Homo sapiens: one gene and its partners. The protein of the gene in region 6 interacts with the protein of the main gene of each other region in a pairwise test. Each region holds a gene or a part of one and is shown on either strand. Other genes may lie near its edges.

What was found.
Region 1: the proteins of AXIN2 (region 6) and TXLNB interact in binary tests that used the Homo sapiens proteins (3 or more experiments, as listed by UniProt).
Region 2: the proteins of AXIN2 (region 6) and GSK3B interact in binary tests that used the Homo sapiens proteins (3 or more experiments, as listed by UniProt).
Region 3: the proteins of AXIN2 (region 6) and AP1M1 interact in binary tests that used the Homo sapiens proteins (3 or more experiments, as listed by UniProt).
Region 4: the proteins of AXIN2 (region 6) and TSGA10 interact in binary tests that used the Homo sapiens proteins (3 or more experiments, as listed by UniProt).
Region 5: the proteins of AXIN2 (region 6) and CWF19L2 interact in binary tests that used the Homo sapiens proteins (3 or more experiments, as listed by UniProt).
Region 7: the proteins of AXIN2 (region 6) and GSK3A interact in binary tests that used the Homo sapiens proteins (3 or more experiments, as listed by UniProt).

What each region holds. Positions count from the first base shown.
Region 1 is NC_000006.12:139,281,999-139,285,498, reverse strand, and holds part of TXLNB (beta-taxilin), read left to right. Parts: intron 1-2,332; exon of another isoform or gene 2,333-2,395; intron 2,396-3,500. UniProt on the Homo sapiens protein: Promotes motor nerve regeneration. May be involved in intracellular vesicle traffic.
Region 2 is NC_000003.12:120,087,948-120,091,447, forward strand, and holds part of GSK3B (glycogen synthase kinase-3 beta), read right to left. Parts: intron 1-3,500. UniProt on the Homo sapiens protein: Constitutively active protein kinase that acts as a negative regulator in the hormonal control of glucose homeostasis, Wnt signaling and regulation of transcription factors and microtubules, by phosphorylating and inactivating glycogen synthase (GYS1 or GYS2), EIF2B, CTNNB1/beta-catenin, APC, AXIN1, DPYSL2/CRMP2, JUN, NFATC1/NFATC, MAPT/TAU and MACF1.
Region 3 is NC_000019.10:16,211,411-16,214,910, forward strand, and holds part of AP1M1 (AP-1 complex subunit mu-1), read left to right. Parts: intron 1-3,500. UniProt on the Homo sapiens protein: Subunit of clathrin-associated adaptor protein complex 1 that plays a role in protein sorting in the trans-Golgi network (TGN) and endosomes.
Region 4 is NC_000002.12:98,997,943-99,001,442, forward strand, and holds part of TSGA10 (testis-specific gene 10 protein), read right to left. Parts: intron 280-3,500; coding exon 255-279; 3' UTR 1-254. UniProt on the Homo sapiens protein: Plays a role in spermatogenesis. When overexpressed, prevents nuclear localization of HIF1A.
Region 5 is NC_000011.10:107,451,326-107,454,825, forward strand, and holds part of CWF19L2 (CWF19-like protein 2), read right to left. Parts: intron 3,248-3,500; coding exon 3,125-3,247; intron 1-3,124.
Region 6 is NC_000017.11:65,530,649-65,534,148, forward strand, and holds part of AXIN2 (axin-2), read right to left. Parts: intron 3,432-3,500; coding exon 3,264-3,431; intron 1-3,263. UniProt on the Homo sapiens protein: Inhibitor of the Wnt signaling pathway. Down-regulates beta-catenin. Probably facilitate the phosphorylation of beta-catenin and APC by GSK3B.
Region 7 is NC_000019.10:42,236,103-42,239,602, forward strand, and holds part of GSK3A (glycogen synthase kinase-3 alpha), read right to left. Parts: intron 840-3,500; coding exon 756-839; intron 615-755; coding exon 504-614; intron 1-503. UniProt on the Homo sapiens protein: Constitutively active protein kinase that acts as a negative regulator in the hormonal control of glucose homeostasis, Wnt signaling and regulation of transcription factors and microtubules, by phosphorylating and inactivating glycogen synthase (GYS1 or GYS2), CTNNB1/beta-catenin, APC and AXIN1.

The DNA of each region.
Region 1 (3,500 bases), on a different chromosome or scaffold from region 6:
TTGCTCTGTGTTACAGAGCAATTTTTTCTTCTCTGACAAAACATCTCAAATGTGTCCCTTTGCAAAGTTAGTCATTATTCAAGTTTCCGTAAGACAATATACAAAATCTCATTCCAGAGGTAAGCAACTTCAAGTGTTCCTAACCAGAAAAGTTATTTTTCAATCACCCTAAAACTTTTACATAAGAATTGGGGTGTGTGTGTGTGTGTGTGTGTGTGTGTGTGTGTGTGTGTGTGTGTGTTGAGGGGAAAGATATGAAGAAAATAGGGATAAAGTTAAAATAACCAATTTGGGTTTCTACTCTCTTCCATGAGTTATTTCATAATCTGCATTAACCTTACAATTACCAAATAGTCAGGATGATGTTTTTAAAAATTCCAACTCCCTAATTCTGCCGCTATTTACGATACCAAATTCCAACTGACTGTGTTTGACCAAAATCAATGCTTGTGGATTAGAGTACCTAGGTGTGTCCACTCTAATTGAGTATGTGTGGGCTCATGACCTTTCTGTGCCTTCCCACTCATCATCATTAGCATATTATTTTAAACACTGTACTATTTAACAGCTACATTATGCATGAAAACAACATTTTTAGGCTAACCTCAACTTGTAACCACCATTTTAAACTTTCAGTTGTTTGCAAGTAGCTTTGGCAGCCTTCTTAGCTACTTTTCAGTTAAATGGTACTGTGCTATCGTCTAGACTAATGGTTTTCCAACTTAACTGTTTATTAGAATCAATTGCAAAATTTGTGAAAAATGCTCCTCCTGAGCCCCCACACACAGATATTTGGAGTTTGTAGGCCTGGAGTGAAGCATGATCTAGTTTCTCAGTTCTTTGAACATGCTATACGCCATCTCCCACAAGGCCTGTGCACATTCTAGTTTCTTTGCCTAGAAATTTCTACCTATCCTCACGTCCTCAATGAGTACTTATTTATTTATTTTTATTTATTTACTTTTTTTCTTTGAGACAGAGTCTCACTCTGTTGCCAGGCTGGAGTGCAGTGGCGCGATTTCGGCTCACTACAACCTCCAGCTCCCTAGTTCAAGCGATTCTCCTGCCTCAGCCTCTCGAGTAGCTGGGATTACAGGCATGTGCCACCATGCCCAGCTAATTTTTGTATTTTTAGTAGAGACGGGGTTTCATTGTGTTGGCCAGGATGGTCTCGATCTCCTGACCTCATGATCCACCCGCCTCGGCCTCCCAAAGTGCTGGGATTACAGCCGTGAGCCACCGCACCCGGCCCACAATGAGTATTTATTAATGCCTAGTCTTTATGATGCACTGTGCTAGGTGCGCAAAGATAAATAAGTCATGGCCTTTAGTCAAGGATCTCTAGGTAGAGAGGAAGAAGAAGACACATAAGCTAATTGTCATATAGTGTAAGTGCAAGAGCAGGAACAGGAAAATTTTTAGGCGAGCATGGGAGATGTTCACCCTGGGTAATTTTGACACAGATTGTGGAAGCAATGGTTCTGATTCTTCAGAAAGTGTTTTCTCTGCTCTTTTGGAGAAAATATAAACATCTGGCTGTGGTCTCCTTTTATAACCTATTTGGACCTCTTAGAGAATTTTAATAAGTCATTCAACCCATATCTGAAGATATATTCTTAGATTTTGCTTATGTACTTGATCAAAGATGTCTTTAATCATTGTATTTATTAGATGCTATTTGCTTTATTGGCACATTTGAGATGCTAAAATGTTTTGACTCTCTACTACAACATTTTCCAAAGTGTGTCTACTTTGGGATGCTTGAGATTTCACAAAGTTAAACAGTTTCTTTACTGCCAGAATTCTCTGACCTTTACTGTATACACAATGAAGATCTAAAATAGTGATGGGCATAGTTTCCATCATTTCCAAAACTTATTGACTGATTGGATCTATGAGAGACATTTTTTTTTTTTTTTTTTGAGACGGAGTTTCGCTCTCATTGCCCAGGCTGGAGTGCAATGGTGCGATCTCGGCTCACCACAACCTCCGCCCTCCGGGTTCAATCGATTCTCCTGCCTCAGCCTCCCAAGTAGCTGGGATTACAGGCATGTGCCACCACTCCCGGCTAATTTTGTATTTTTAGTAGAGACAGGATTTCTCCATGTTGGTCAGGCTGGTCTTGAACTCCCGACCTCAGGTGATCCGCCTGCGTCGGTCTCCCAAAGTGCTGGGATTACAGGCATGAACCACCACGCCTGGCCAAGGCTTTTTTTTTTTTTTTTTTACAGAACACCTTGAATATTTGGGAAATGTCTCTACAACCTAAGCTCCCAGGACTTCTTTTTCCTTTTGAGGCTGCACTTTCTCCTACAATAAACGCAGTACTTACCGGAGCAGTTGGGGGAATATTTAAAAATCTCTCTCGTGGGTAAAGTCACTTTCCCCTTGGCATCTGAAATGAAAGAAATGAAAACAGATTTCCCATTATGCGGCACCATGCCAAGTTCACATCTAAAGTATCCCCTTTGTTCTCCTACTCGCATCCTCCAGGCTCAGAGGTATCTCTCATTTATCACTTCTTTGACAACATTATGTGGGCTGGGAGAAAAACAAAGCTCATTCACAGGGCTATTCTGAGCTCAGAATCCATCTAGTCAACCTACTAATTTTATAGACAGGGAAATTGAAGCCTAGGGAGTTTCAGAATCCACCAAAAAATGTTACTCATCTAGTTGATGTGATTGTGAGATTAGTCATAAAGCAAGGGATGGACTTTGTGTCACTGACATCGCAGGACCAAAGTGGTACAGAAGCAAGCATCATATTGGTTAAGGAGCATTTATTACACCTCAGTTAATGAATTTTGTCTTTCTAGTTACAAGTGAGCTTCAGTGGTACCTTCTGAGAGGCTCCTGACTAGGACATCAGTATTCTGAAATGTCTTCAGACATCCATTTACATAGTCTTCCTTTATTTTTTGAGACAAAGTCTCACTCTGTTGCCCAGGCTGGAGTACAGTGGTGCGATCTCAGCTCACTGCAACTTCCACCTCCCAGGTTCAAGCGATTCTACTGCCTCAGTCTCCCATGTAGCTAGGATTACAGCCACGTGCCACCATGCATGGCCAATTTTTATATTTTTAGTAGAGACGGGGTTTCACTGTGTTGGCCAGACTGGTCTCGAACTTGTGACCTCAAGTGATCTGCCCACCTCACCCTCCCAAAGTGCTGGGATTGCAGACGTGAGCCACCGCGCCCGGCCCCTAGTCTTCCTTTGAACGGTCCGGTCACTCTCCCAGATAGTCTGTTTCATCTGTTTTAGCTTGATTTCTAGTTTCTCTGAGAGAGTAATAAACTGCAGCTTTGATATTTTCTGAAGGAGATGGTATTTTCTGAAGGAGACTAAATTTTCTGAAGGAGATGATAAGAAGACCAGAGAAATTCAAGGGAAAGAGGAATAAGCAGAGACAAAGCTTGACAGGTAGATTCATAGAGAAGCTAGAACCTAGACCAGACCTTGACAGGGAGGAGAGTTTACAGAAGCAGATGGAAGGGGAG
Region 2 (3,500 bases), on a different chromosome or scaffold from region 6:
AGTGGCACGATCTCAGCTCACTGCAATCTCCGCCTCATGGGTTCAAACGATTCTCCTGCCTCAGCCTCCTGAGTAGCTGGGACTACAGACGCACACCACCACGCCCCCGCTAATTTTTGTATTTTTAGTAGAGACGGGGTTTCCCCACGTTGGCCAGGATGGTCTTGATCTCCTGACCTCGTGATCCACCCGCCTCGGCCTCCCAAAGTGCTGGGATTACAGGCGTGAGCCACCGTGCCAGCCGAACTAAATTGTGTTTCTAAATCTTATACCACATCAAATGCATTACAGACACAAGTATATTGGAATAATTTACTAAAAATGTCCATTATGTACTGAGTATTAGCTCATTTAAAAAAATAGAAAACTCAATAACGTAAAATGGAATATTCCTTTTTTATATAAATTTAAAGGCAGAAAATCTCAGGGAAAACAAACTTCTTTAACTCTACTCAGTTTTTCCTTGCTGTTCTATTCACATAGGTTTTTATATAAATATACATTTATACATTACACTCAACAAATTTCAAAAGCAATTTGATTTGTATAACCAAGGATGATTTGTATAACTCAAGATAAAATGCCAAGAGTGCAACCTCCGCTTTAATGAAAATGCTCTTCTTCTGAACAATGAAAATGCTTTTATTCTTGAAATCGGGGAAAACTCCCCTTCCACCACCACCACCCCACACACACACACAAAAAATCAGCTAGAAAATGATAAACATTCCAACAAATTAATTTACTTATGGTGATTATGTTCTTAGAAGAACAATATCCGGGGAACCCGGTTGGTCCTGTTAGTACCAACACACACTCTTGTCTCACCCACACAAGCGTTCTGCCCCTCCATTCTCCATTATAGGGTGGAGCATCACAAGAAGCACCACAATCTCACATCCTGTCTGTCATCTCCAACCCTGTCTCAACTTCATGGGTCTTATTTAAAAGTATGGAACTGTGACAATAGGGTCAACATATGCATGTTTCACAGCCTTCTCTATGCATAAAGTGCACACACAAATAGAGCTCTCCCACTCTTTAGACTCTGCTGCTGGAATAAAATCTCTGACTTTCCCAGCCTTGCTGTTTCTCCAAAATATTATCTCACACCTGCAACTCAATTCTAATATAAGGGCTACACAGTAAAGCGTGCAAGTACTGATTTTCAGCTGAACTTTGCCAGTGAAATGAGAAGATGTCACCTCATTTTCTAAATGCAGTTCCCAATCAGCCATAAGGTGATTTGTGAATCACTGGGTTCCCTTGAAGTTTTTCCTTTTGCCTGTGACTTACTGTCACTTCACAATTAGCATTCTACAGGTGCATGCAACAAGAAAGCATGCAATTCTTAAATATCTTAAACGTTTTAACAACTCTGGGGAAGTCGGGTTGGGAAATGACTGAAAATAAAGTTCTGGTTTTCAGTCTCACACATGAACTCTTTTCCACATTAACACAGGATTATCAAGAAATGGACTAAACTCTAATAACCTAATTTTTAGATGTCATAAAGAGATTAAACTTCCCAGGGGAATACGGAAACTCTAAGTTGCTACCTACTCTTTGGCTTTAATCACCATACGACGTAATACTGCAGAATAATATGCAGCTACTATTATTCTCTCTTTGCTAATAGAAATTTTGATCTAAAAAAGTTTTATATGAGGAAACAACTTAAGTGATACAGACTTATTTTCATATTTCTAAATCTTATATTTAAGTATTAAACCTAAACAACTAGCTAAATTTTCTCCAATTGTATATACCAAAAGGATTACTAATATTTTAACCAAAAGTGCCACAAACAGTCCCTTACTTTCCCTATGGAGTAAAATATCATGTGATTCTAAAGAAAAACTTTATAAACATTTATTTAATTACATGTAAACTTGGAAGTGAACAAAAATGAAACATTGGTTTCACTATAGCAAGTAAAAAGTAGTATTTCAAATATACTGATTTAAATTTGGGATTAATGCCTAAACTCAACAAAAAGGGCAAAAAATACTTGTTATAAAATCAACTTTTAATTTCTTCTGGAGTCTTCACAAAGTGAAGGCTCTCAATACTTTATTCTTAGATAAATTTTGCATTTAAAATAATAGTAATAATCATTATTTATAAAAAACAAGTTTTAAGCATATATCAAAGATTAATGGCTACATATCTAAAATGTTACAGTCACAGTTTAGTCCCAAAAGTATTTTCATTGATCTGAAATAAGCCATCATGAAACTATTATAACCAGGTTTCAAGTGTGAGGCTTTTGAAGCTGTATATAAAAAAAAAAAAAATTAGGACTTTGATGAGAAGCATTTAAATAAAAGCCCTTAGTTTACTGCTCCCGAATATAAATCCAACATCTTTAGGTGTAGAAAAATTAGAAACTGTGCAATTAATAGACTAGGAAGTCAAATATCATTGCCAGTAACTAACTGCTGTCTGAATTTCAAGGGAACTTATTGTATATTAAATTTTAAGAAAGTGAACTCACCTACCCTCTCACCTCAGCACTTTCTCAATTTTCCCATTACAATTAACAATATAACTTAGCAGTCAAGTCTTCCAGGCCAGTAACATCAGAATTTATTTTTAACTCTTGACTCCTTCACAAATATTCCACTTCAGTCCAGTATGAAGTTCTGCCAGTTCTTCATTCACACTGTCTCTCAAACCTGTTCCTTTCACCCCACTTTCACATTTTACTTTATTCCCTCATGATTCACAACATACCCTACTAGCTCCCTAAAAAGGCTCTAGCATCTCTCTACTATAATTCACTAATTCAACTGCAAAAATCATCTTACGTCTTATTCAGCAACCAACAATAAATCCAGATCTCTTCTGAATCTCAATCAAACTTGTACAGAACCCCTCTGCCCTCCATCAGCTAACTTTCTCTTATTTCTCAAATTCCATCTGTTCTTATGTTCTTATTTAGGCCCCTTTAATTCAGATTTGTCAACTTGATTATTGTCTCTCATGCAAAACTCACCATCATTGTTCCTTGGTACACTCCTTCCACCTAGACCTTTCATGCTTTTCTACCAGTTCAAGTTACCACCTCCTTTAACATCAGTCCTAATACACCTTGTCCGCAGGAAGTCTTTCCTCTCCCAACCATCAGTCTCACCCCTTTACTCTTTGCCACTCTGAACAAATGATTCAATTTGTATTTTACAATCTTGCAGTCATCACGCTATTGTTTTAATTTTTTTTTCCCCATAGCCTCCCTCTACAACTAAAGGATAAGCTTTTGAGAGCAAGGACTACAATTTCTTATGTCTGTTTTCAACAGGGGTTCCTTAGAATGCTAGCATCCTAACAAATGCTTAAAGACTCCCCTTTCTTTTAAATGCTTTTAAAGTCAAAGCTGTCAAAAACACATAATTAACACTAAACTCCAACTTTTAAAATTCTAAATTGACCTATATGGTAATCGGAATTAAACATTTTCATCTATATATTTTACAAGAGTTACTCCATCCTTAGTTAGT
Region 3 (3,500 bases), on a different chromosome or scaffold from region 6:
TAGGAGTGGTGAGAGAGGGCATCTTTGTCTTGTGCCAGTTTTCAGGGGGAACGCTTTCAGCTTTTGCCCATTCAGTATGATGTTGGCTATGGATTTGTCATAGATGGCTCTTATTATTTTAGGTATGTTCCTTCAAAACCTAGTTAGTTGGCTGGGCATGGTAGCTCCCGCTCTACTAAAAATAGGAAAATTAGCCGGGCGTGGTGATGCGCGCCTGTAATCCCAGCTACTCGGGTGGCTGAGGTGGGAGGATCACTTGAGCCCCAGAGGTAGAGGTTGCAGTGAGTCCAGATTGTGCCACCGCACTCCAGCCTGGGCGACAGAGCAAGACCCTGTTTCAAAAAAAAACAAAAAACAAAACCAAAAAACTCCAGTTTGTTGAGAGTTTTTAACATGAAGAGATGTTGAATTTTATCAAAAGCCTTTTCTGCACCTATTGAGATGATCATGTAGTTTCTGTCTTTAGTTCTATTTATGTGATGAATCATGTTTATTGATTTGCATGTATTGAACCAACCTTGCATCCCAGGGATAAAAGCCTTCTTGATTGTGGCGGATTAGCTTTTTGATGTACTGCTGGATTCAGTTTACTAGTATTTTGTTGAGGATTTTTGCATCAATGTTCATCAAGGATATTGGCCTGAAGTTTTCTTTTTTTGTTGTATCTCTGCCAGGTTTTGGTATCAGGATGATGCTGGCCTCATAGAATGAGTAGGGGAGGAGTCCCTCCTCCTCCGTTTTTTTGGAATCATTTCAGTAGGAATGGTACCAGCTCTTCTTTGTACGTCTGATAGAATTCAGCTGTGAGTCCGTCTGGTCCAGGTTTTTTTTGGTTGTTAGGCTATTTATTACTGATGCAATTTTGGAGCTCATTATTGGTCTGTTCAGGGATTCAGTTTCTCCCTGGTTCCATCTTGGAAGGGTATATGTGTCCGGGAGATTATCCATTTCTTCTAGATTTTCTAGTTAGTGTGCATAGAAGTGTTAATAATAGTCTCTAAGGGTTATTTGTAGTTCTGTGGGGTCAATGGTAATATCCCCTTTGTCATTTCTAATTGTGTTTATTTGGGTTTTCTCTCTTTTCTTAATAGTCTAGCTAGCAGCCTATCTATCTTATTCATTCTTTTAAAACACCAGCTCCTGGCTTACTTGATGTTTTGAATGGTGTTTTTGTGTCTCAGTCTTCTAGAGTTCAGCTGTGACTTTGGTTATTTCTTGTCTTCTGCTAGCTTTGGAGTTGGAGGCTTTTGCTTCGTGAGTTCTTTTAGTTGTGATGTTAGGTTGTTAATTTGAGATCTTTCTAACTTTTTGATGTGGGCATGTAGTGCTGTAAATTTCTCTTAACACTGCCCTAGCCGTGTCCCAGAGATTCTGGTCTGTTGTATCTTTGTTCTTATTTGTTTCAAATAATTTCTTGACTTCTGCCTTAATTTCATTATTTACCCAAAAGTAATTTGGGAGCAGGTTGTTTAATTTCCATGTAATTGTATGGGTTTGAGTGATTTTCTTAGTTTTGAATTCTATTTTTATTGATTTGTGGTCTGAGAGAGTGGCTGGTATGCTTTTGGTTCTTTTGCATCTGCTGAGGATTATTTTATGTCCAATTGTGTGGTGGTTTTTAGAGTATGTACCATGTACAGATGAGATATATTCTCTCGTTTTTGGGTGGAGAGTTCTGTAGATATCTATCAGGTCCAGTTGATCCAGTGCTGAGTTAAGGTCCTGGATATCTTTGATAATTTTCTGCCCCAGTGATCTGTCTAATACTGTCAGTGGGGTGTTGAAATCTCCCACTGTTATTGTGTGGGAGTCTAAGTCTCTTTGTAGGTCTCTAAGAACTTGCTTTATGAATCTGAGTGCTGCTGTTGGCTGCATATTTATTTAGGTTAGTTAGATCTTGTTGAATTGAATACCTTACCATTATGCAATGCACTTCTTTGTCTTTTTTTGATCTTTGTTGGCTTAAAGTCTGTTTTGTCTGAAATTAAGATTGCAACTCTGCTTTTGTCTGTTTTCTATTTGCTTGGTAGATTTTTCTCCATTTCTTCATTTTGAGTCTGTGGGTGTTATTGCATCTGAGATGGGTCTTTTTTTTTTCTTTTGAGACAGAGTCTTGCTGTGTTGCCCAGGCTGGAGTGCAGTGGCGCAATCTCGGCTCACTGCAACCTCTGTCCCCCAGGTTCAAGCAATTCTCCTGCCTCAGCCTCCCAAATAGTTGGGATTACAGGCACGCGCCACCACGCCTGGCGGTTTTCTATTTTTAGTAGAGACGAGGTTTCACCATGTTGGCCAGGCTGGTCTCGAACTCCTGACCTCAAGTGATCCACTCGCCTCGGCCTCCCAAAGTGCTGGGATATTACAGGCATGAGCCACTGCACCCAGCCAAGAATGGTGTCTTAAAGGGAGCATATCATTTGGTCTTATTTCTTTATCCAGCTCTTGCCACTCTATGCCTTTTAATTGGGGCATTTAGCCCATTTACATTCAAGGTTAGTATTGATATGCATGTATTTGATCCTGTCATTGTGTTGTTAGCTGTTTATTATGCTGACTTGTTTGTGTGGTTGCTTTATAGTGTTACTTGTCTGTGTACTTAAATGTGTTTTTGTAGTGGCTAGTAATGGCCTTTTCTTTCCTTTTTCTTTTTTTTTTTTTTGAGACAAAGTCTCACTGGGTAGCCCAGGCTGGAGTGCCATGGCGTGATCTTGGCTCACTGCAACCTCTGCCTCCCAGGTTCAAGTGATTCTCCTGCCTCAGCCTCCCGAGTAGCTGGGACTACAGGCGTATGCCACCATGCCCAGCTAATTTTTTTTTGGTATTTTTAGTAGAGACAGAGTTTCACCATGTTAGCCAGGATGGTCTCGATCTCCTGACCTGACCTCGTGATCCACCTGCCTTGGCCTCCCAAAGTGCTGGGATTACAGGCGTGAGCCACTGCACCCGGCCTTTTTTTTTTTTTGAGATGGAGTCTTGCCCTGTCACCCAGGCTGGAGTGCAATGGCATGATCTCTGCTCACTGCAACCTCTGCCTCCCTGGCTCAAGCAATTCTCCTGCCTTAGCCTCCCGAGTAGCTGGGATTACAGGTACCCACCACCATGACCGGCTAATTTTTGTATTTTTAGTAGATATGGAGTTACACCATGTTGGCCAGACTGGTGTCGAACTCCACACCTCAGGTGATTCGCCTGCCTCAGCCTCCCAAAGTGCTGGGATTACAGGCATGAGCCACCACACCCGGCCTTCTTTTCATATTTAGTACTTCTTTCAGGAGCTCTTGTACAGCAGGTCTGCTGGTAAACAAATTCCCTCAGCATTTGCTTGTCTGAAAGGATCTTTTTTATTCTTCTTTTTTTTTGAGACAGGGTCTCATTCTGTTGCTCAGGCTGGAGTGCAGTGGCATGATCATGGCTCACTGCAACCTCTACCTCCCTGGCACAAGCTATTCTCTGGCCTCAGCCTACCAATTGGCTGGGACTATAGGCAGGTACCACCACACCCG
Region 4 (3,500 bases), on a different chromosome or scaffold from region 6:
CAATAGTGAAGTAAGCAGATTTTACACTCACTATCACTGCATGGATAGAAAGAGCCATATACATTTTTGTTTTTATAAGTCATCTCAGATCACTGCAACATGGCACATTAGAACAGAGATTCAGAGACACAAAGTTAATAAATACATTTAACATTGCCAAGCATTTAAAAGATAAATGCACTCATGTAGCAAAAAAAAAAAAATCAGTTTGTAACTTTGACCTTTCTCAGGGATGTGAAGAATCATTTCAGGTGTCAGAAATCTCTGTAGCAAAGATTCCTATAAGAGAAAAAATCATGCTGATTAATATTTTTAATTCAACTTTTTCAACATGTGTAACAAATTTATTCTAGTAAGTGTATCACTTCAGCAAAACGTAAGATTTTTCTTCATTTCTATGAAGGAAAACAAAAAACAATATATTTTTTCACTCAGTTTTCACAAACTGGTACATTCATACCATGGAATACTATTCAACAATAAATAGGAATGAACTATTGATACTTACAGCAGCTTGGATGGATCTCACGGGCATTATGCTGAATGAGAAAAGTTAATCTGAAAAGGTTATCTCAAAACGACAGAATTATAGAGATGGCGAAGAAAGTAGTGTTTCCCAGGAGACAGGGAGATGAAGAAGGTCAGGGCTACAACTATAAATAGGCATAATGAGGGAGTGAATTCTTTGGTGCTGATGGAACAACTTCACATCTTGATCATAGTTGTGCTGTGTGTGGATTGTAAAAAATATATATATACACATACAAACAAATGAGTGCATCTAAAAACTAGTGAAATCTGAATAAGGCCTTTAGACTAGTTAATCACACTGTGCTAATGTCAATATCCCAGTTTGTAAGATACTCCATTATAGAAGCTGGGGTAAGGATATGTGGGACTGTCTGTGGTATTTTTGCAACTACTTGTGAGACTATAATCATTCTATTTTTATTTTTTAATTACTATTTTTTGGAGACAGAGTCTCACTCTGTCACCCAGGCTGAAGTGCAGTGACATGATCTCAGCTTACTGCAACCTCTGCCCCCAGGTTCAAGCAAATCTCATGCCTCAGCCGCCTGAGTAGCTGGGATTACAGACATGCGCCACCACGCCCAGCTAATGTTTGTATTTTTAGTAGAGATGGGGTTTTGCCACGTTGGCCAGGCTGGTCTCAAACTCCTGGCCTCAAATGATCCTCCCACCTCAGCCTCCTAAAGTTCTGGGATTATAGTCAGGAGCCACTGTGTATGGCCAAGACTATAATCATTAAAAAAAAGTACCTGTGGTACATCTATACTATGGAATACTACTCAGCAGTTAAAAGGAATATGTGACAACTACTAATACATGCAACAACCTGGATAAATCTGAAATATATTATGCTGGGTGAAAGTCAACCACTAGAGGCTGCATACTGTATGATTCCATTTACATGACAACCTGGGAAAGGCAAAACTAGAGAGGCAGGAAACAGAGCAGTGGTTAGAGGAAAGTAAATTCAATGTGATGTCTGTTGTCTAGATAATAGGTGTCAGTCAAAGGACACCATTTGAAACTGAGAGTAAAAGATTAAGTGAGAAAAAAGGTGATTAAGGGCATTGTTAATCATATTAATAGAAAGGTAACAACTAAAATAAAATAAACTTTCATAAAAGCCAAAAGAAATTTGTTAAAAAGCAAAGAAGACTGATCAAATGAAGAAATACAACAAATATCACATAGTACAGAAAGTAATTATAACTATTGATGTGACATAACAGTCATATCAATAATGTAAAAGATTTTAACTCATCTATTTTATTTATACTGTTCTATTCTATTTTTGAGACAGGGTCTCATTCTGTTGCCCAGGCTAGAATGCAGTGGCATGATTATGGCTTACTGAAGCCATGACCTTCCAGGCTCAGTTGATCCTCTCACCTCAGCCTACCAAGTAGCTAGAAATACAGGCACGTGCCACCATATCTGGCTAATTTTTTTTGTGTGTGTATTTTTTGTAGAGATGGGGTTTCACCATTGCCCAGGCTGGTCTGTAACTCCTAGGCTCAAGCGATCTGTCTGCCTCAGTCTCCCAAAGTGCTAGGATTACACGTGTGAGCAACCACGCCCAGTGTAATTCACCTATTTTTTAAAAAGATTTTCAAAATGGCAGGGTGTGGTGGCTCATGCCTGTAATCCTAGCACTTTGGGAGGCTGAGGCGAGTGGATTACCTGAGGTCAGGAGTTTGAGACCAGCCTGGTCAACATGGTGAAACCCTGTCTCTACTAAAAATACAAAAACTAGGCCAGGTGTGGTGGCTCATGCCTGTAATCCCAGCACCTTGGGAGGCCAAGGCAGGTGGATCACCTGAGGTCAGGAGTTCGAGACCACCCTGCCCAACATGGCAAACCCCGTCTCTACTGAAAAAAAAAAAAAATGAGCTGGATGTAGTGATGGACACCTGTAATCTCACCTACTCAGGGAGGCTGAGGCAGGAGAATCACTTGAACCTGGGAGGTGGAGGTTGCAGGGAGCTGAGATCCTGCCATTGCACTCCAGTCTGGGGGACAAGAGTGAAACTCTGACTTAAAAAAAAAAAAAAAAAAGGGGATCGTTCCAAGATGGTCGAATAGGAAGAGCTGCAGTCCACAGCTCCCAGCGTAAGCGACACAGAAGATGGGTGATTTCTGCATTTCCAAGTGAGGTACCAGGTTCATCTCACTGGGACTTGTTGGACAGTGGGTGCAGCCCACAGAGTGTGAGCCAAAGCAGGGCAGGGCATCGCCTCACCTGGGAAGCGCAAGGGGTCGGGGAATTCCCTTTCCTAGTGCTCGGGACACTCCCACTCTACTACTGTGCTTTTCCAGTGGTCTTTGCAAACAGCACACCAGGAGATTATATCCCATGCATGGCTCGGTGGGTCCCACACCCATGGACCCTGCTTACTGCTAGCACAGCAGTCCGAGATCGAACTGCGAGGTGGCAGCAAGGCTGGGAGAGGGGCATCCACCATTGCTGAGGCTTGATTTGGTAAACAAGGCAGCCTGGAAGCTCGAACCGGGTGGAGCCCACCACAGCTCAATGAGGTCTGCCTATCTCTGTAGACTTCACCTCTGGGGACAGGGCATAGCTGAACAAAAGGCAGCAGAAACTTCTGCAGACTTAAACGTCCCTGTCTGACAGCTTTGAAGAGAGCAGTGGTTCTCCCAGCATGGAGTTTGAGATCTGAGAACGGACAGACTGCCTCCTCAAGTGAGTCCCTGACCCCCTAGTAGCCTAACTCAGGGACACCTCCCAGTAGGGGCAAACTGACACCTCATACAGCCAGGTGCCCCTCTGAGATGAAGCTTCCAGAGGAAGGATCAGGCAGCAATATTTGCTGTTCTGCAGCCTCCGCTGGTGATACCGAGGCAAACAGGATCTGGAGTGGACCTCCAGCAAACTCCAACAGACCTGCAGCTGAGGGTCCTGACTGTTAGAAGGAAAACTAACAAACAGAAAGGAATAGCATCAACATCAA
Region 5 (3,500 bases), on a different chromosome or scaffold from region 6:
GAGAAAATTTTATAAAATAAATACACGTTAGAAAAGATTTCAAATCAGTGGCGATACATTCATCTTAGAAAGTTAGAAAAAGAAGAGCAAATTAAACACAAAGTATTCGCAAAGAATAAATATAGTTTAAATCAATGAAATAGAAAACACACAACCAGAGAAAATTCAAGGAAACTAAAAGGCAATAAAGAAAGATTAATAAAACTGATAAGCCTCAAGACAGACTGACAGAGGAAACAAACAGAAAATAGAAATTACCAAAATCAGGGATGAAAGAGGGGTATCACTATGGATTCCGTAAACATTAAAAGAACAAAGGAAATATTACAAATAACTTTATGACAATAAATTTGACAATTTCTATGGAATAAATTCCCAGAAAAACCGAAATTACTAAAACTAACTCAAGAATAAACAGAAAGTATTTAACACAACTATTAAAGGAATTAACTCTGTCGTTAAACCCATTCCACAAAGAAACTCCAGGACCAAACCGTTTCACTGGCAAATTTTAACACTTATAGATGCAAAAAAAGCACTTACCAAATTCAATACTCATTCAAGATACAAACTCTCAGAAAACTAGAAATAAAATGTCATTTCCTTAATCTGAAAAGGCATACATGAAAGTCCCACAGCAGACATCATGCTTAAATGTAAAAACCTGAATGCTTTGCACCTAAGATAAGGAAAAAGGCAATCATGTCCACTCTCACCACTTCCATTCAACACTATTTTTAAGTCCTAGCTACTGAAATAAGGCAACAACAATTAACAAATAAAACAGGCACAGAGACTGAAAAGAAAAAAGTAAAAGTCTTTTTCACACATGACATACCATTTACCTAGAAATCCTAAGAAATCTACTAAAAAAGCTACTAACACTAGTATTAGTAATTTTAACATGGTGATAAGAGGCAAGGTGAATATATCAAAAGCAGGTTTTTTTTCACTTTTTTCTTTTTTTTCTGATCCTAATGTTTCAAGTCACTTCTATAATTACATACTAGCTGTAAACACATTTAATTTAAAATTCCACTCACGATAGCACTTCCAGAAAACAAAATGGAAAAAAAATAACAAACGACATGTAAGATCTCTACACTAAAAATTTCAGAACATTGTGAGAAAAATCAAAGACATAAATGGATAGAGAGATGTACCAAGTGCATAATGGATTGAAAGAATATTTTAACATATCTATCTCCCTAAATTCCTTCCAATAGGGAAAATTCAGCCTTTTCAACAAATGATGCTAGAAAAACTGGAAATCCACGTGGGAAAAAAATAAACTGACACTACACAACATAAATAAAAATTATTAATGGATTATAAATAAGCAAAAAAGCCAAAGCTATAAAACTTCTAGGGAAAAAAAATAGGAGGCCAAGCATGGTGGCTCACACCCGTAATCCCAGCACTTTGGAAGGCTGAGGCAGGAGATCACTAGAGCCCAGGAGTTCGAGACCAGCCTCGACAATATAGTAAGACTCCATGTCTACAAAAACAACTTTTCTGTACTACATCTGTAGTCATAGCTAATTGGGCTGCTAAGGCAGCAGGATTGCTTGAGCCCAGGAGTTTGAGGCTGCAATGAGCCATGATGGTGCCACTGCACTCCAGTCTGTGCAACATAGTGAGGCTCCATCTCTAAAAACAAACAAAAAACAAAAAAATTTAATAATAACATAAACATAGGAGAAATCACAATCTTGAGGTGCGCAAAAATTAGGATACCAGAAGCACTAAGAAAAAATGATGAAAAACAAAAAAGAAAATATTTAATAAATCAGATTTCACAAAGACATGGAATGCCCTATGGGGACTTAAAATGATGCTCTACATCCTTGTTCTTCAGAGAAATATCACACGAGACATTACACAGTAGAATAGCTAAAAATTACTAAGACTGACAATACCAAGTACTAGCAAGGATGTGGAATTCCTTGGTGACTCCTAGTGCTAAACTTGCCTCAGAGCCAATGGACAGGTGGTTGGGGGGCAACTGGTGCAGCTAAGGGAGTGCTTACACCACCTCTCCCCCAACCCAAGGCTGCACAATGTGCAGCTCCAAAAGAGACCCTGTCCTTCTGCTTGAGGAGAGGAGAGAGAAGAGTAAATACAGGACTCCATCTTGCATCTTGAATACCAGCTCAGCCATAGCTGGTAACCACTAAAGAGCCCTTAGGCCCTGAATAACCAGCACCAATAATCGGGTACTACACTGTGGCCTTCACTGTGTATCTGAGACTTGCTGGATTCAGGTGAGACTCAGCACATTCCCAGCTGTGGTGGCTATGGGGAGAGCCTCCTTCTGCTTGAGAAAAGTAAAGGGGGCTCTGTCTTGCGCCTTAGGTACCAGCTCAGCCACAGGGTGGTAGAACACCAAGAGGGATCTTGGGGTCTCCAGCCCCACGCCTTGGCTCTTGGATAGCATTTCTGGATCTGCCCTGGCCCAGGGGGTGCCCACTGCCCTGAAGGGTGAGTCCCAGGCCGGGCAGCTGACTGAAGAGTTCTTGGGCCTTAAGGGAACATCAGTGGTAGCCTGCCAGTACTACCTGTGGGTCTATGGTGGTGGCTACAGGGTGAGGCCCCTCTGCCTGTGAAAAGGGAAGAGTGGGAAGGACTGCCATTCATAGGTTGAATGCCAGCTCAGCCACAGTTCAATAGAACACCAGGTACAAGTCTAAGGTTTTTGACGCCAGTACCTGGGTCCCTGATGGCACCTCTGGACCCACCCTCAGGCCTGGGGGAACTTGCCACCCTGAAGGGAAAGACGCAGGCCTGGCTGGCTTCATCACCTGCTGATTGCAGAGCCCCAGGGCCTTGAGTGAACACCAGCTGTAGCCAGGTAATTGTTACAGCAGGCCTTGGGCAAGATCCAGTGCTGTGCTTAGCAATAATTCCCAAATCATATCCCTATCCTCTTAGCCTTTCTCTGAAATTCAAGATCAACATTTCCAATATTTTCTGGACATCTCTAAGTAGATGTATCCCAGATATTTTCATATCATAACTAGTAATATATTTTTTACGTTTTCTTGTATTTTAACTTCCCATAAGTTACACATTCAAATAAAATGTTCTCAAATAGCTGCTTTGATTAATTTTAGTACATACTTACTGATGAGCTATCAGATGACTCATTGTTTTTTTCATATTTCTGTTTCTTGCTCTTTTTTTTCTTTTCTTTCTTTGCTTTTTTTGAATGCTTGTCTTTTTTCTTCTTTTTCTTCACAGAGTGTTCCTACAATCATTTTGAACAGGCAAGAAAATAATTTAATTTCATCTTAATTTAAAAGGATGTATTCTGAGAGAAAAAAAATAAACCACATTCTAAAAAACTTTCAATCTCTGATGAAATAAGACCAAGAATATGTCTAAATAAATAAAATCTTTCAGGAAATCTTAACACACCTTCTATAATATATGCACTATCAATAAATCATATAACTGAGACTTCTTACCAGAAAAATACTGGGAAAATTTTGGCTTTATTT
Region 6 (3,500 bases):
GTCCCAAGTGCAACACTCCTGGATGGCCCTGGCACAGCCACACAGGAGGCAAGCCAGCCCAGCGCAGCTTCCCAGGGCCGAACAGACGGCACTGGCCCCATGATGCCCTCCCCTCTTCTCCCCATTTCCAGGCCTCTTCTCCCATCCCATCCCTCCAGGGTCAAACACCAAAGGCCCTTCTATTATGCCCGTTGATTAAAGGCTCCTTTCATCCCTCCCCAGCGTTCTTTCTTCTGAGGCTGTTTAATTGTACAGATGCAAATGCCTGGCCTCTCAGGAGTGCCACATTCGGAAACAACTGCTGTCCTCTTGGGCCAGGCCCACCCCTAAACCCCTTCCGAGGAAATTAAGCAAGGGCCTCTTCCTTCCCTGTCCCCAGCCAAGGGAGACCCCTCAGAGGGATTAAACTTGCCCCTGCAAGCTGTCATTTCCAGCCCATAAAGGCCACTCACAGAGGGAAGGTCACAGTCCCCTGGGGGGATGGGAGAACCTTTCAAGCATTTAATTGTGTCTCAGGGTTATGGTTGGGCTTTGTCTTTTCCCTTTAAAAAAAAAAAAATTAACTCCCCTTGGTTAGAGCTCAATTTTTTCCCTCTTTAATAAAGGCAAGCCAAATACTTTCGTAGGAGATAAGGCTAAATACAGTGAACAGCTGGGTTTAGTCAAGGTTCTTTGTTTTTAGCATTCCTGACCCAGCTAATGCAGTGGGGTGAACAACGGCATGGCTCTGACTAGGCAGCACTGAAGACACGTCATGTCAAGGGGTCAAAATTCTCGGGGGAGCGTGAGAGGAGACAGTGAGAAAATGGGGAGGGGCTCTGTGCACAGGAGACTCAGGACAGTGGGGGGAAAAGTCACTTCTCCACATAAGAGGCTCAAATCCCAACGCCACCCTCCGTCAGACCCCTTTGGCCCCAGCTCCGACCCCTCCAGGGTTTACCAAGTTGGGCTTTCACAGCATGTCTGAGCAAACACGCAGCGACCTTTTACATAATTGCAACCTCCTCCAGAGAGGAGAGAGGCCACATTCTCTCAGCCCCACCCCCAGGACTTCAAACACACTGCACTGCCCTCATTTTCTCCAAGAAACAGGCTTTTCCACTGCAACATGCTTCATGTGGCAAACTTTGCTTTCTTCTGACATCTGGCACCAACAGCGTCTGGCGCGTCTGAAGGGACTGTTTGCTTTTTGAACCCCTGCCATGTTGAGATTACTCAACGCATCCCAGGTCCCCCCCACCTCCCACCCCTGCTCCACGGCCCCAACCTCACTGGGTCTTTTTTATTTTTTTGAAGGGGGGATGTATTTGTACAAATTGAGATGTTGAAGCACCAGCCCTGCTGGGAGGGTGAGGCGTGACACCCTGTGTCCCTGTCCTACCCCAGGAGGACACTGAGTCTAGCTCAGGCCCTGCAGAGATAAGGCAGCTGGGAGGGCCTTCCCACAGCCTGATCCACTCAGGAAAGAACTGGAGAGGATCGGAGAGTTGACCATTTGTGCAAGTCTTTGTGCATTAAAGGGGAGGCCAGGGCTTCAAAGCCAGGCTTATTAACTGTGCCTCAGGGAGAAAAAAAAAAAATCAGAGCCAGATGTGGCCACAGCAGCTGAAGGAGGCACTTTCCCCACAAGCCTATGCCAGCGCCACATGGCTCTTCTCCAAGGTCACCTGCAGTTCCACTCGAAGTCCAGCCGAGACAAAGCCAAGATCAAAATGAATCCCCAGAGGGACACACTTGTGTCATTAGTTTCACCTTGTGTCTTTTCAAGATAAAAGCAGCAGCAGCAGCAGCCAGGCCTGTTCCCCCACCCCTTTGATACCTTTTCACAATTGTCTCTGCCCAGGTATAAAAGGGACTATCCAGACCCAGCAACACGCCCTGCTGGCCAGTTACCTCCAGGGGCTCAGTCCAACCTCCATCCCCTCCCCACTCCAAAGAGAATCACTTTGAGCCCCCGCCCAAACTAACTCCCAGATGAAGGTGGCTGGTAAAACTATACAAGGCCTGCTCTAGAGGGGAGGGTGTCTCAGAGCCCTGCAGGTGGACTCATCCCCGTCCAGGAGCCCATGCCCACCTGGCAGGTTACCAAGTGCTATTCAGAGTTTTCCACTCACACCCCTGGCCCTGGTGGCGGCAACGGGTTCACACCTGGGAATAGACTGTGGTCCTGGCACAGGGACAACAGCACACAGCTGAGGAGTTGGAACTCTGTCTTGGGTGTAGACCCCAGAGTGAGCACCTCCTTAAACTAGGGTGCCCCTGTCTCACCCTTGTCCCAGCCTGGAGCCCTAAACCTGGGAAACCTGGGACAGAACTGGAGCAGAATCCACACATTCTCTTGGGCTGCAGGCCATGGAGAGGGGCAAGGGAGGACTCCAGATGAACTGAGGCAGAGTCATCACCTGCTCCTTACGAGGGAAATGATCAAGAGAAGGAATGGCCTAGGGCTGGCCCTCATCCTCCTCAGCTCTTGAACCCTCTCAAGGGCCCTAAAAAGTCAGCATGGACCTTCTCAAGGGCACCTCCGTCCACTCTGCAGACAAGGTAAGGAGACCAGGAAGTTCCCTTCCTGAAGCCCCTGCAGGGGAGAAGGCAGCGGGGCCCAGGCCTGGACAGGAGGAGTAGACTGCCCTATTCACCCTGTGCCCACCCGCAGGTCCAGCCCCTTCTTTGTTATGGACAAAGGCGCATCTCTGCTTCTAATGGCCCATAAAATCCAGGGAGGCTGTTCAGGTGGAAAGGCAGGGTAAGAAAAACACGGGGGACTTTTCCTAGGCATGGTTCCTGACTATTTGGAGCCTTCAATGTGGGGGTCTCTCCTAAACTCAAGCCAGTAGGGCGGCGCTTCCAGACCCTCCCTCCTAATCAGTGTGCCTGTCCCTCTTTTTGCTCCCTGCTCCCCACTCGCCCACAAGCCCCTCAATTGCAGGTAAAGCCTCTGCAGTGTGGCCTGAGCCCCACTCTCCTGTCGGTGCAAGCAGCTGCTCCTTTTCTCTCCTCAGTCTGGTTCACCTGGTGGAAAGAGCCTGGCCAGGTCCCCCAGAGAACCCTCCACGCAGCCTCCCTCTTGCGGCTGCTGCTTCGTTATTGCTGCTAGCGGTGAGGGGAGAGAAGAAATGAGAAGGGAGCCTCCCCCAGCGCCTGCTGAGCCCCCTCCCACCCTGCCCCACCTAGGTCTGCTCAGCCAGGGGAGCTGCTCCAGGCTCTGGCTCTTGGTTCTGAGCAAACAAACTGAGAGCAGAAAAAAGCCACAGGACTCTTACCTATAATTTCCCTTTTTGCTGAGCTGCTCTTTAAAGTGGCCCAGGGTCAAGCTCTGAGCCTTCAGCATCCTCCGGTATGGAATTTCTTCCCCACAGAAAAAGTAAGTGACAACCAACTCACTGGCCTGGAGCGCGTGGACACCTGCCAGTTTCTTTGGCTCTTTGTGACTGAAAATAAGATGGAATGGAACAAGTTTAGCATTTTAAAGCAGACACACATCTAAAGCAAACACACAC
Region 7 (3,500 bases), on a different chromosome or scaffold from region 6:
TAACACCCAGGGCACGATGCCAGGCACTGGGGAATGAGCCTGCACAGATGATGGACGGAGATGCATTCCTGGCTCTGTGGATGCTAACCTTCCTCCAGCCCTAACTCCTTCCCACCTACCCCCAGCCAAGGCTCTAAAGGCCCGAACTCTGGCCTCAGCAGCTGTCTCTGTGCAGTCCTGGTCCCCACCACCCCCTTATCCTGAGCTAACTCCAACATCTCTGGTGCCACTGGACTCCCTGTATGGACCTGAGCAACTACCTGGCAGCTTCTGCAACCCCAGGTGTCAGGCTGCCTTCCTGATTCAGTCAGGCCTTGCCTGCCTTGGCCCTCCCCTGTGTTAGGCGAGCTCCATCTCGGGGGGTTATGGGAACAACAGCAGGGGACATGGGGCCTCCAAAAACCAACATAAACTTGGCGGATGAGGGATCCCATAAAAGGCAGGAGGCTCCAGAGCCCCTGGCTTTGTGGGCCTGGGTCCCAGCAGCCCACCTGCTGGCCTACCTTGACATAGAGGATAGGGATGGTCAACTTGGCCTTGGTGAAGTGGCGGGCCACCCGGTACACTGTCTCGGGCACATATTCCAGCACCAGATTTAGGTAAAGCTCGTCTTTCTGCAGGGAGCAAAGGAGAGGTGTGAGGCACTGTGAGAAGAGTGAGGAGGGGGAAGGAAGGTATGCAGGGAGCAGTGGGGGAAAGGCAGGCAGGCAGGAAAATGGCTGGAGCAACCCACCACCACCACCTCGAGATCTCACCTTCTCGCCACTGGAGTAGAAAAAGTATCTCAGCCTCACAATATTGCAGTGGTCCAGCTTACGCATGATCTGCAGCTCTCGGTTCTTGAGGGCAAAGGGAGAGTCTCAGAATACAACCAACTCTCTCGGCTGCTCCTCCCTACTCACACTCACTCCCAACAACAGCCAGGCAGCTACTCCCTGTGTCCCAGCTCCAAGGTCCCCTGGAGTATCCCCCAATTCCTTGTCTCCAGACTATTCCCCTCCCACAGGAGCTGGAAGCCCACAGGTTAAACCCAGGCCACAGATGTGTTTTCTTCACCCCATTTTTTTTTTTTTTTGAGACAGAGTCTTGCTCTGTTGCCAGGCTGGCATGCAGTGGCTCAATATCGGCTCACTGCAACCTCTGCCTCCCTGGGTCAAGCAATTCTCCTGCCTCAGCCTTCCAAGTAGCTGGGATTACAGGCATGCACCACCACGCCCAGCTAATTTTTGTATTTTTAGTAGAGATGGGGTTTCACCACGTTAGCCAGGATGGTCTCGATCTCCTGACCTTGTGATCCACCTGCCTCAGCCTCCCTGACCTCATGATCCACAGGCCTCAGCCTCCCAAAGTGCTGGGATTACAGGCGTGAGGCACCGCGCCCAGCCACCCCACTTAAAAAAAAATTTTTTTTCAACTTATTGCTGACATGTAAAAGCCAAATGGCACCTTCTGATTTTTTTCTCCAAAATAAAGTTTTAAAAAGGATAGGCCAGGGCCAGGCGTGGTGGCTCACGCCTGTAATCCCAGCACTTTGGGAGGCTGAGGTGGGTGGATCACGAAGTCAGGAGATTGAGACCATCCTGGTTAACACGGTGAAACCCTGTCTCTACTAAAAATACAAAAAAAATTAGCCAAGCATGGTGGCAGGCACCTGTAGTCCCAGCTACTCGGGAGGCTGAGGCAGGAGAATGGCGTGAACCCAGGAGGCGGAGCTTGCAGTGAGCTGAGATCGCGCCACTGCACTCCAGCCTGGGCGACAGACTCTGTCTCAAAAAATAATAATAATAAATAAATAAATAAGATAAAATTTATTATTATTATTATTTTTAAAAGAACCTGGCTATGTTGGCCAGGTTGGTTTTGAACTCCTAGTCTCAGGCAATCCTCCTGCCTCGGGCTCTCCAAGTTCAAGGATTACAGGCATGAGCTACCATACCCAGCCTTAAAATAAAAATAAAATAAAAAACAGCTGGGCATGGTGGCTCACCCCTGTAATCCCAGCACTTTGGGAGGCCAAGGCAGGGAAATCACTTGAGGCCAGGAGTTCGAGACCAGCCTGGCCAACGTGGCAAAACCCCATCTCTACTAAAAATACAAAAAAATTAGCTGGGCATGGTGGCGCACGCCTGTGATTCCAACTACTCAGGTGGATGAGGTACAAGAATTGCTTGAACCCAGGAGGCAGAGGTTGCAGCGCTTGAACCCAGGAGGCAGAGGTTGCAGTGAGCCGACATCACACCACTGCACTCCAGCCTTAGTGACAGAACGAGATTCTGTCTTAAAAAAAAAAAAAAAAAAATAGAGACCATCCTGGCTAACTCGGTGAAACCCCGTCCCTACTAGAAATACAAAAAATTAGCCGAGAGTGGTGGCACACGCCTGTAGTCCCAGCTACTAGGGAGGCTGAGGCAGAAGAATCGCTTGAACCCGGCAGGCGGAGGTTGCAGTGACCCGAGATCACGCCACCACACTCCAGCCTGGGTGACAGCATGAGACTCCGTCTCAAAAAAAAAAAAAAAAAAAAAAAAAAGATTTCACATCTAAATCCAGTTTTCAGTTTGTCTTGAAAAATCAGGGCTAGGTATGCTGGCTCATGCCTGTAATACCAGCACTTTGGGAGGTCGAGGTGGGGGCGGATTACTTGAGGTCAGGAGTTCGAGACCAGCCTGGCCAACATGGCAAAACCCTGTCTCTACTAAAAATACAAAAAAAAAAAATTAGCCAGGCATAGTGGCCCATGCCTGCAATCCCAGCTACTCAGGTGGTTGAGGCACAAGAATCGCTTGAACCTGGGAGGCAGAGGTTGTAGCGGGCCAAGATCGTGCCACTGCACTCCAGCCTGGGTGACAGAGTAAGACTCCATCTCAAAAAAAAAAAATCAGGCATGGGCACATGAGGCTTGCCCCCCTACCTGGCACAAGCAACAACAGACAGGTAGTGGCCATCCAGCTCACTCTGGTCCCGTGGAAGCATCTGGGTCCTCGAACTCTATCTAGGATCCTGAGTCCCAGACTCCAGGCATTGGACTTTTCCCAGAATGCGGTCTCAGCATTCTTCCCCATTCTCTATTCCTCAGTGAGGCCTAGGAACTCCCTGCCCCTACATCCCTCTTACTTCTGGAACTCAACTCCAATCAAATTCTGACACCCTGGAGCTCCTCCTGCCCAAGGGCCCTCCCTGCCAAGACCGAGGCCCTGGTCTGGTTCCTTTCCAGTCTAGGCTCAGTTCTCCTACATCCAGACTAGTCTAAGCTCCAAATGCCAGGCCCTTAAACACCAATTATTCCTCAACTTCCACTTCCTCCATCTCCTTCTAGTTCCCTGAGCCTCTCCTAGCTCACAGGGCACCTCCATTCCATTCTGCGCTGGCCAAACACCTGGGAAGAGCGCGACCTTCAGAACCACCCGCGCTAGCCCTGCCAGGTCCCTTTCTCTCCTGGGAAGAAGTGTAACCAAATGGTTAAGGTAGAGGGTTTGGGAATCAGATTCCAGCCTTGACTG